2 separate regions of the Homo sapiens genome follow, and region 1 is linked to region 2. Evidence: fine-mapped expression QTL. Tissue or cell type: whole blood. Region 2 holds a variant in brackets; the other region holds the start of a gene. All regions are shown on one strand. Distances are between the middles of the regions. Region 1 holds the start of SPART (spartin). Region 2 overlaps SPART (spartin).

Region 1 (5,377 bases), 24 kb before region 2:
ATAAAACAAAAATTAACCACACTGACTTACTGCAGTTTTTTGCTTGTTTGTTTGAGACAGAGTTTTGCTCTTGTTGCCCAGTCTGGAGTCAATGGCACAATCTCGGCTCACGGTGACCTCCACCTCCCGGGTTCAAGTGAGTCTCCTGCCTCAGCCTCTTGGGTAGCTAGGATTACAGGCATGCGCCACCACGCCCAGGTAATTTTGTATTTTTAGTAGAGACCGGGTTTCTTCATGTTGGTCGGGCTGGTCTCGAACTCCCGACCTCAGGTGATCCGCCTGCCTCGGCCTCCCAAAGTGCTGGGATTACAGGTGTGAGCCACCATGCCTGGCCTGCAGCTTTGTAGTTAAGTTTTGAAATTGGAATGTGTCAGTCCTCCAACTTCATTCTTCTTTTTCAAGATCTGTGTGTGTGTGCTCATGTGGCTATTCTGGGTCCTTATATTTCCCTGGATTGTATGAATTTTAGGATCAGCTTGCAAAATTCTGCAAAAAAGTCATTTGGGATCTTGACACGGATTGTGTTGCGTCTGGAGGTCCATTTGAGAAGTACTGCCATCTTCCCAATATGAAGTCTTTCAACCCTTTAACATGGGATGTCTTTCCATTTATTTAGGTCTTTAAGTTCTTTCAGCAATGTTGTATGGTCTTCAGCATACAAGTCTTGCACTTATTACATTTATTTCTAAGTATTTTATTCTTCTTGATAATATTATGAATGGAATTAATTTCATTTTTGAAATGTTCATTGCTAGTGTATAGAAATACTATTGATTTCTGTATGTTGACCTGTTGTCCTGAATCCTTGATGTACTCATTTATTAGTTCTAACAGTGTTGTAGTAAATTCTTTAGGGTTTTCTATATATAACAATTTTGTGTATAGAAATTCTACATGTTTTAAACACATTCATCTTTATGGCTGTTGGAAATTTAAAAAATTCTATTTAAATGTATGTACTTTTTAAATGTAAAGAAGTAGAGTAGATGACCAATAAAAGATTTCCTTTCTTTTTTTGGTGGGGGCCAGGGGGTACAGGGTCTGGCTCTATTGCCCAGGCTGGGGTGCAGTGGCACAATCTCAGTCACTGCTGCCTCTGCCTCCCCAGCTCAGGTGATCTTCCTGCCTCAGCCTCTGGAGTAACTGGGACTACAGATGTGTACCACCATGCCCAGCTAATTTTTGTGTTTTTTTGTAGGGACGGGTTTCGTCATGTTGCCCAGGCTGGTCTCGAACTCCTGGGCTCAAGCGATTCTCTTGCCTCGGCCTCTGGAGTAGCTGGGACTACAGGCATAAGCCACCAAGCCTGGCCAATATTTGCAAGACTAAAGAAATATTGACATACAATTTCACAATATGGAACGGAAATATGAGTTCAAGAAGAAAAGAAATGATGTAAAATTTCCTTCTGTTAAAAGCTTGTTCATGTAGTTTTAAAAATTGATGATTTTAGATATTAAATTGGTATTTAGATTCCACTGGCTACATTTAAAAGTTATATAACTTTTATTTTAAAATGTTAATTTATAATAAAACAGAAGTTGCTTCTTTTGTAACTATTTAAGTCAGATGAGAAATTGTGATGGTCAATCCAAAAACGTGGAAGTGAGAATACAGTCATAGTCTTTGGGGACTCCTTTGGGGGTATAAGAGCAAAATCATTTTGAAACCACTGTATTAATATATTCCTAATAGGTTTTGCTTTTTGGGATGACTGACTGCTACCTTTCTGAGATTTGAGGGAGTCACTTAACTGGTCCTAAGGCCAGGCGCGGTGACTCACGCCTGTAATCCCAGCACTTTGGGAAACTGAGGCAGGTGGATCGCTTGAGGTCAGGAATTCGAGACCAGCCTGGCTAACTTGAGGTCAAGCTTTCAAGACCAGCTTGGCCAATATGGTGAAACCCCGTCTCTACTAAAAATACAAAAATTAGACGGGAGTGGTGGTGCACAGCTGTAATTCCAGCTTCTCTGGAGGCTGAGGCATGAGAGTCGCTTGAACCTGGGAAGCAGAGGTTGCAGTGAGCCGAGATCATGCCACTGCACTCCAGCCTGGGCAACATAGTAAGACTCTGTCTCAAAACAAAACAAAAACACAACAACAACAAAACTGGTTCTAAATGCTCCGGGCAAGTACATACTGCTTTTTCTTTTTTCTGTTTTTTTTTCCCTAAGGCAGCCCTATTGAAGAGTCTGTCATCTACAATATTTTACTAATTTAAAAACACTTGTCAAGAAGGGTAAAGTATGTTCATCTTGATTTTACTCTTTGTATCCCGGAATCAGGAACTAACAGTTTTATGATAGTGATATAGACTTTACACACACACCAAGACTTAAAACACGTGGTGCAGGCGGGCTTTTGGAAATTAACTGTGCTCTGGATACAGAAGTCACAAAGCTCAGGCTGCAGAGACATTGAGGGGATAATCAGCCTTTATTGTCTCTCGTGCACTGTGCCCAGCGCTCCCTCTAGCGGCTACAAGCGCTCACTGCCCACACTCTCTACTAGGCTCTCCGGAGGCCTCGGTTTCGCTGGAGAGAAAGAGATTGCGCAGGCGCCGAGCAGCCGACGTGGCCGCAGGGGACCGTGCCTGGGGGGGTCTGCGCGGGGCCGCTGACTCGCGAGGTTCTCTGTCGCCTGCCGCCCTCGCTCCTTTTCTCCCCTTCTAGAGTGTTACGGTGACTCTTGGGTCCGAAGGGGACGGACGTCCTCCCACGTACCATTTAGAAGGTCAGAGTGGGCAGAACCTAGTCTGAGCAGGCCGGTGATGAATCCGCTGGCAAGACGCGCGCGTGGGTACTCACGTGACCTAGGCTGCGGCGGCGGCGTGCTGCGGGCTCTGTGGCGGGAGCGAGGCCGACGGGCGGGGCCGCGCGGCCGCGTGACGCGAAGCGTTCGAGAGCGCGCGTCGTGGAACGTCTTGGTTGCCACGGCAAGCGCGCGCGCGAGGCCTTGGGAACCTCGGGACCGGCCCCCGGCGAGCGCAGCGGCGCCCAGTGTAAGGGAGTGGGAGCTGGTCCGTGCCGCGGCGGCCGCGCAGGGAGCTCTCGAGGCAACGCCGGGGCGCCCGAGGTCTGGAAGGCGCAGGTGGGGCGCGGGGGAGTTCACCCCTGCGCGGTCCCTTGGGTGGGCGGGGTGGGCGCCCCAGGCCCCGCGGACTCGGCTGGGAGGCTGAGCGGGCGACGGTCACGGGACAAGGGTGGAGGGGGTGGGGACCTCATCCGAGTCTCAGAGATGGAATTTTCGAGGAAGGGAGCGATTTCGAGAGAGAATAGTTTGAGAAGTTGTTCTCAGTCCCTTCTCTCGCGGGAGTGTGGTATTTAGGGAAGCTTCGGCCTCTTAACCCATGGACTGTTAGGATGGAGGGAATCCTTCCCGCTCGATTCCTATCGCGGAGTCCTTTCGGAGCATCGCTATTGATCATTCTCGCCGCCCCAACCCCGTTGTTTACTTTGGCTTCGCAGATCTCTGTGGTCTTTTGCCCTCCCGCAGCGCCCATGGCCCCGTCAAGGTTGGGCAGCCTTTCTCTGCAAGAAGGCCCACGAACAACTGCGGTTATATTGGGATGGATTGCGCGTGATTTTACTCTTTACAATACATTCTTTCATGCTTCCTAGGGATTGAGCTGCGCGGCGGATCCCTCCGACTTAATTCTGGGCCTGAGAAAAGTTTCTCTTGGAATGCGCAGTTTCGTGACGCAGCATTATTGCGTGACTCTAGGGCTGACCCAGTTTTTCACTTTCTAATTGTAAGGAAGTGCGCTAGTAGTCCACCGAGGATCCTCGAGGTTGGCCTTATTGTATCATAATTTAACGAATTTGCGTTCCAGGTTGTTACAGCCTTTGAAATAATGGCCTCATATTTAAGAATGTAGCAATTTTTCTTTGAAATTTCCGAAAGTGGGGAAAAAAGTAATAGAAGACTGCACCTATATGGAATTATTTTCTGATTCGCAGTTCTTTATAATCGTAGACTTAATTTGGTGGCTTTATTGGACCTGTTTGAAACAGGAAGCCTTTCTGTAATGTGGTTTCGGGTCGGCTTCACCTCTGGCACTCTCTGAAACGTCGTTGTCTATGGTTTCCCTAAGAAGCTAGAATGAGCGGGATGCTACGGAGGGAGGTGTATACAGGTGTTAGACAAAGCCCCCTCCGCTTTTTTGGTAAAGGGCCAAATAGGCATTAGATCAACTTGTGCTAGCTCTAAGGAGTTAAATGCGGTATTATTAAAGACTGCTTGTAATGTTGACTGTTAAGTGAGAGTGTTACTTCTTTCAGTGTTTATGGAATCGAACTAAATTGCTAGGTATTTTAATGCAGAATTTTACCTTTTCTCGGGTATTTTTTAAGACATACACAGACATACATGTAGTTATGTTGAAATAAATGTGTTTTATTAGAACGTTAAAAAATTAGAATTTAGGTGAACTACTGGTATCGGAACAGATTTTGGTTTGTTGTTGAAGACTGTACACTGGTGTAGGTACTGTTTAATACATCAGATTGTCATTTCAAAGACTTTGTCTTCTTAACTTTGAAAATTAAATAATGTGAAATAATGTGATAATGGTTTTTATCTTTTCAGGACACTTGATTGACACTTAATTGTGCTTAGGAATAGAATAGGCTTTTTTTTAAGTCACCATCCTCCAATCCTTATTTCTGTAAAATGTATTTTCTGAGACCGCTGAGGATATAGCAAATCCCAGTCACAAAATAAAAATGTGATATTTTAATATAAACCTTTTTCTTTCTGTGTTGAGATTCCCCAGAGATTAGACTGAAATTGACCATTAGACTTATATATAACCTCTAGATACCCAGGCTCTTCTCTCGTGTATCCTTTTTTTCTCTTTAAGATGGAGATGTAGCAAGGAAGGTTATTAAGCAATCCTGTGGAATTAGCCCTCCCACTCCACCCCTACACACAGGCACACTCTTCTTTCTCAGTAGCCATCTTGTTCCCTCCATTGACACATTATTAGGAAATCTTTCATCACACCGTATGTAAAATAAGCTTAGAAATAAACGTATACCCAAGGTAAATATTGCTTCTAGCTATATTCCTTCATTATGCCTCGCTTCTACTTTCAAATGCTACCTATTGAAGATTTAAGCCACATGACTTTCTACGACGGGACACTCTGGGTTTTCTTCACCCCTCCCTCACTCTGCTGACTTGTAAACATAGTAGGACTTTTAGATTTGGAATCAAACACATCTCATCTAATTTTCATTTTCATTTTTCTTTTCTTTCTTTCTTTTTTTTTTTTTTTTAAAGAGACAAGGTCTTGCTCTGTCACCCAGGCTGGTTGGAGTGCAGTGGTGCAGTCATAGCTCACTGCAACCTTGAACTTCTGGGCCCAAGCGATCC
Region 2 (5,377 bases):
TAGTAACTCTCTGATTTATACCTTTTATTTTGTTTTTTAAAAAATATTGCCAGTCACCATTCAGTGTGTCAAATTCATAACCCCATTAAATGGGTCTTGACTCATTTAAACGACTGTCAATTCAGATTTCCATGTCCACTAAAATCCATTTTAAAAGATGTCTAAAGCAGAGGAAATCTTCAACATAAAAAACCAACAAGCTAAAATAATTAGCTTGCTAGGAACTAATAAAATACTTTTCCTAGTGCCAAAGAACTATGCTTGAGACAAGAAAAAAAGATAGAGCCAAATTTTAAAATGTAGTTGCGATAGTTAAAATTGACTTGAAAGAGATTTACAAAGAAACTGCAATGAAAAATCTTTTCACTTTTACTACCCTACCCCCCAACTTTATAGGCTGCTAAGCATTATTATTAGGAGGCCATCATTCAGAAAACTTGCTTGTTACCCCAACACACTAAATTCAAAGGTCGTTTTCCCAAGTTTTTGGAATTTATACTTGTCAGGCCTCTGAGCCCAAGCCAAGCCATCACATCCGCGGTGACTTGACGTATATGCCCAGATGGCCTGAAGTAACTGAAGAATCACAAAAGAAGTGAAAATGCCCTCCTCTGCCTTAACTGATGACATTCCACCACAAAAGAAGTGAAAATGGCTGGTCCTTGCCTTAAGTGATGACATTACCTTGTGAAAGTCCTTTTCCTGGCTCATCCTGGCTCAAAAAGCTCCCCCACTGAGCACCTTGCGACCCCCACTCCTGCCTGCCAGAGAACAAATCCCCTTTGACTGTAATTTTCCTTTATCTACCCAAATCCTATAAAACGGCCCCACCCTTATCTCCCTTCGCTGACTCTCTTTTCGGTCTCAGCCCGCTTGCACCCAGGTGAAATAAACAGCCTTGTTGCTCACACAAAGCCTGTTTGGTGGTCTCTTCACATGCACGCAAGTGAAAATACTGTTACAAGTTTGTTCCATTTACTACTGCTATGTAACAAACTGCCCCAAACCCAAAGGCACAAAACAACAAACATTTGTTTCTGTGGAATTCAGTGGGCCAGGTATTTGGAAAGGTCACAGCAGGAGTGGCTTATATCTCTTTCATGGTATCTAAGGGCTTCATCTGGGAAGACTCAAAGGCTAGCTAGTGACTTGACAATAAGCTGAAGACTGGAATCATTACTGACACCTCTGGCATCTAGGCTGGGAGAGGTCAAAGTCTAGGACTGCCAAATAGAGTGCCTACACATGGCCTCTTGTGGCTGGACTTCCACCTAGCATGGTGGCCTTAGGCTAGTCTGGCTTCTACCTAGTGACTTGGGGCTTCAAATGTGAATCATCCAGCAAACAGACAGAAGCTGCATTACCATTTCTGACATACTCTTGGAAATTTCCAACATCATTTGGAAATTTGTTGTTAAAAGCAAACAACAAGCCAGCCCAGATGCAAGGAATGTGACATAGACCCCACTTCCCTCTGGGAAGAATGTCAAGATCTTGTGGAAAGATTAACATTCAGAATAGCAGGCACTGTTTGTGGTCATCTTCAGAAATTTTTTCATCAGCTGCCACTAAATCTCAGGCCTCCTAGGTACTATAGATAGCACACCATGGTGCTACCGGAAGCAGTACAGCCAGTTAATCCTGGGAAGAGGTCTCTTTGTAGATTTCAAAAGAACTTTCAGCAGTGCATAATTTTAAAACAAGCAAAAACTGTGTTCTGGTAACACTCAGAGGACTTCTTTATTACTTAAGACCTCAGTTTCTTCGTGCCAGTACCTCTTTTCCTTTTTATTCTATACCTTCAGGGCTGGGGTTCTAGTAATGTCCTCATAGTTGGTAACTGTAAACTATTTAACTGCCTATCAGCGTATATGTCTCTTTATGAGCTTTTTAATAGGTAGAACGAGTAGTTCGTCAAATGTTTATGGTACAAGTAAAACAAAGGGGGGCAGAAAATTAATAAAGATTTACTCCAGGGAAAATTATCTGATCTATCAAGAGACTATTGTTACCTGACTGATTCAGTCTATGTACAAAATGAGTAACCAGGGATATAAATTGAGCTCATTCATCTTAGCCCATAATTGGTGCCTGTCCACTGTCAAAGAATAAGTAAAGATCACTAAAAGCTAGTCTGAGGTTCTCCTAATGTAAAAGGTAAAAAAAGTAAAACAACCATGCTGAAAGTTTACCTGTATAGGCTTGAGAAACCTAGACTTAACACTTTAAGAAGGCAGCGGCTATGCAGTATCAATCGAGTAGAGCCTAGTAAGCTAATTTGGAAGGAGGTAGAGGGTTGCTGACAATAAACTGATGGAGCCCACCTTTGGAGCAATCTACCTTCAACCATTCTGAAACACTTTAGTGGTTGTGAGATAGCAAAACATCATCAAGGGTATTTGAATGTCCCCTCTCAACTCCCTAGTCTTTCCCAATTTAATTTACAGATGGACTCTGGAATGCTAGGCAAACAGTTGACATGGAGTGAGACGGAATGATCACTTTCTGCCTACCTATTCCAACATATCATCCTAGGGTTGAGAGTGAGCAGAACGGAGGCAACTATGATGCCTCCCTAAG[A/G]TTTCTCCAAGATTATGCATTTTTTGCTACCATTTTGTGCTTCTAGGCCCTAGCAAAAACTTTTCCATTTTGGTTAATTCAGTCTGTTAAAGAATAGACAAACAAGTCCTCCTATTCTTCAGTAGATTATTTCTGGGACTCCATTGGCCTAGTACAGTCTTCCAGCTGTCAGATCCACAAAGACCTTTATTCTGGCATAAATTATATAGAATGAACAAAACATCAAAGAGCAATCATATATTCAATTTATACTTTGATGGGTATAGGGTGGTTAAGTGCTAAGACAAATCATTTCTAGGTTTTTAGAGGACTACGTCAAACATAAGATACATGTCATATGATTGGAAATTCAGTAGTAGCCATGTGCTAGCCAATTTTCTGCCAATTTTCCCCCTCTCTTAGCCAGAAATAAAGACTATCAAAAGCTGAAAATAAAAAGATCAGTGATCAGTGTTTTAAACTCATATTTCTCATGATAAAAATTATTAAAACTTACCAGAAAAGTTGGGTTCTATATAATCTTAGGGTTCAGCTAGCTTTTTACCAGGAGAGAAAGCTGTGATTTGGGACTTCTGTGTTTTTGTGTTTTGTTTTGTTTTGTTTTGAGACAGAGTCTCGCTCTGTTACCCAAGTCGGAGTGCAGTGACGCTATCTCAGCTCACTGCAAACTCTGCCTTCAGGGTTTAAGTGACTCTCCTGCCTCAGCTTCCTGAGTAGCTGGGACTACAGGTGCACACCACCACACCCAGCTAATTTTTGTATTTTTAGTAAACACAAAGTTTCACCATATTGGCCAGGCTGGTCTCGAGCTTCTGACCTCAGGTGATCCGCCCAATTTGGCCTTCCAAAGTGCTGAGTTTCATGCACGTCCGTGTGAAGAGACCACCAAACGGGCTTTGTGTGAGCAACATGGCTGTTTATTTCACCTGGGTGCAGGTGGGCTGAGTCCGAAAAGAGAATCAGCAAAGGGAGATAAGGGTGGGGCCATTTTATAGGATTTGGGTAGGTAAAGGAAAATTACAGTCCAAGGGGGTTTGTTCTCTGGCGGGCAGGAGTGGGGGTCGCAAGGTGCTCAGTGGGGGTGCTTTTTGAGCCAGGATGAGCCAGGAAAAGGACTTTCACAAGGTAATGTCATCACTTAAGGCAAGGACCGGCCATTTACACTTCTTTTGTGGTGGAATGTCATCAGTTAAGGTGGGGCAGGGCATATTCACTTCTTTTGTGATTCTTCAGTTACTTCAGGCCATCTGGGCGTATATGTGCAAGTCACAGGGGACGCGATGGCTTGGCTTGGGCTCAGAGGCCTGACATTCCTGACTTCTTATATTAATAAGAAAAATAAAACAAAATAGTGTTGAAGTGTTGGGGCAGCAAAAATTTTTGGGGGGTGATATGGAGAGAGAATGGGCGATGTTTCTCAGGGCTGCTTCAAGCGGGATTAGGGGCGGCGTGGGAACCTAGAGTGGGAGAGATTAAGCTGAAGGGAGGTCTTGTGGTAAGGGGTGATATTGTGGGGTTGTTAGAAGAAACATTTGTCGTGTAGAATGATTGGTGATGGCCTAGATACGGTTTTGGATGAATTGAGAAACTAAATGGAATAACAGAAGGAGAAAAACAGGTATAAAAGGTCTAAGAATTGGGACGACTCAGGATATCTGATTAGAGAGCGCCTAAGGAGATTCAGCATAGTCCTGCCAGCAAAGATTATTTATTTACTTCAAGAGTTAAGAGTGGCAGTTTGGGGACAGCACCAGGAGATATCAGCTGTGATGGCTTGGAAAAACAGTGTAAACTGGCAGTGTAAACAAGAGCAGGGCATGTATGAGTAGTTGAGAACGGTGAATAGGAGTATGAGTAGACAGAAGATAGTAGGGATGACAGGTTTTCTGGGGCACAGTCTAAGTTGGTCTGGTGTCTCGAATGAGACTGGGGCCTAATAAGGAGCGTCTGTACGGGAGCTTAAATGGGCTGTACCCTGTAGCATTCCGAGGACAGGCCTGAATTCTGAGAAAGGAAAGTGGTAAAAGTATTGTCCAGTCCTTTTTAAGTTGGTGGCTGAGCTTGGTGAGGTGTGTTTTTAAAAGACCTTTAGTCTATTCTACTTTTCTTGAAGATGGAGGACCGTAAGGGATATAAAGGTTTCACTGAATACTAAGAGCCTGAAAAACTGCTGGCTGATTTGACTAATAAAGGCTTGTCTGTTGTCAGACTGTATTGAGGTGGGAAGGCTAAACTGAGGAATTATGTCTGACAGAAGGGAAGAAATGACTGCAGTGGCCTTCTCAGACCCTGTAGGAAAGGACTCTACCTATCCAGTGAAAGTGTCTACCTAGACTAAGAGGTATTTTAGTTATCTGACTCGGGGCATGTTGAGTAAAGCTAATTTGCCAGTCTTGGGTGGGAGCAAATCCTCGAGCTTGATGTGTAGGGAAGGGAGGGGGCCTGAATAATCCCTGAGGAGTAGTAGAATAGCAGATGTAACACTGAGAAGTTATTTCCTTGAGGATAGATTTCCACGATGGAAAGGAAATGAGAGGTTCTAAGAGGCAGGCTAGTGGCTTGTACTATAGCATAGCCTGCCTTTGCTGGTGTGTGGCGATTAGGCCTGGTGGAACTGCCATCAATAAATCAAGCGTGATCAGGGTAAGGAACAGGAAAGAAGGAAATTTGGGGAAATGGGGTGAATGTCAGGTGGATCAGAGAGATACAGTCATGGGGGTCAGGTGTGGTATCCAGAATAATGCGAGAGGCCGGATTGGAGTCTGGGCCAGGAACAACGGTAATTGTGGGAGACTCA

The links.
Region 1: it holds the start of SPART, and the variant in region 2 is fine-mapped to the expression of SPART in whole blood (INTERVAL, PIP above 0.99).

Annotation. Positions count from the first base shown.
Region 1 is chr13:36,343,939-36,349,315 of GRCh38, reverse strand. SPART (spartin) reads left to right here and starts at 2,922. Exons shown (of 9, transcript NM_015087.5): 1 at 2,922-3,091. SPART-AS1 (SPART antisense RNA 1) reads right to left here and starts at 2,885. Exons shown (of 5, transcript NR_045181.1): 1 at 2,809-2,885. RefSeq lists a silencer at 3,024-3,073.
Region 2 is chr13:36,320,254-36,325,630 of GRCh38, reverse strand. All of the region lies in intron 5 of SPART (spartin), which reads left to right. Among named protein-coding and RNA genes, the nearest start is that of SPART, 23 kb to the left of the region's middle. RefSeq lists enhancers at 1,065-1,359, 2,897-3,598, 3,599-4,301, 5,004-5,377. The variant A/G (reference allele first, on the strand shown) is at 2,581.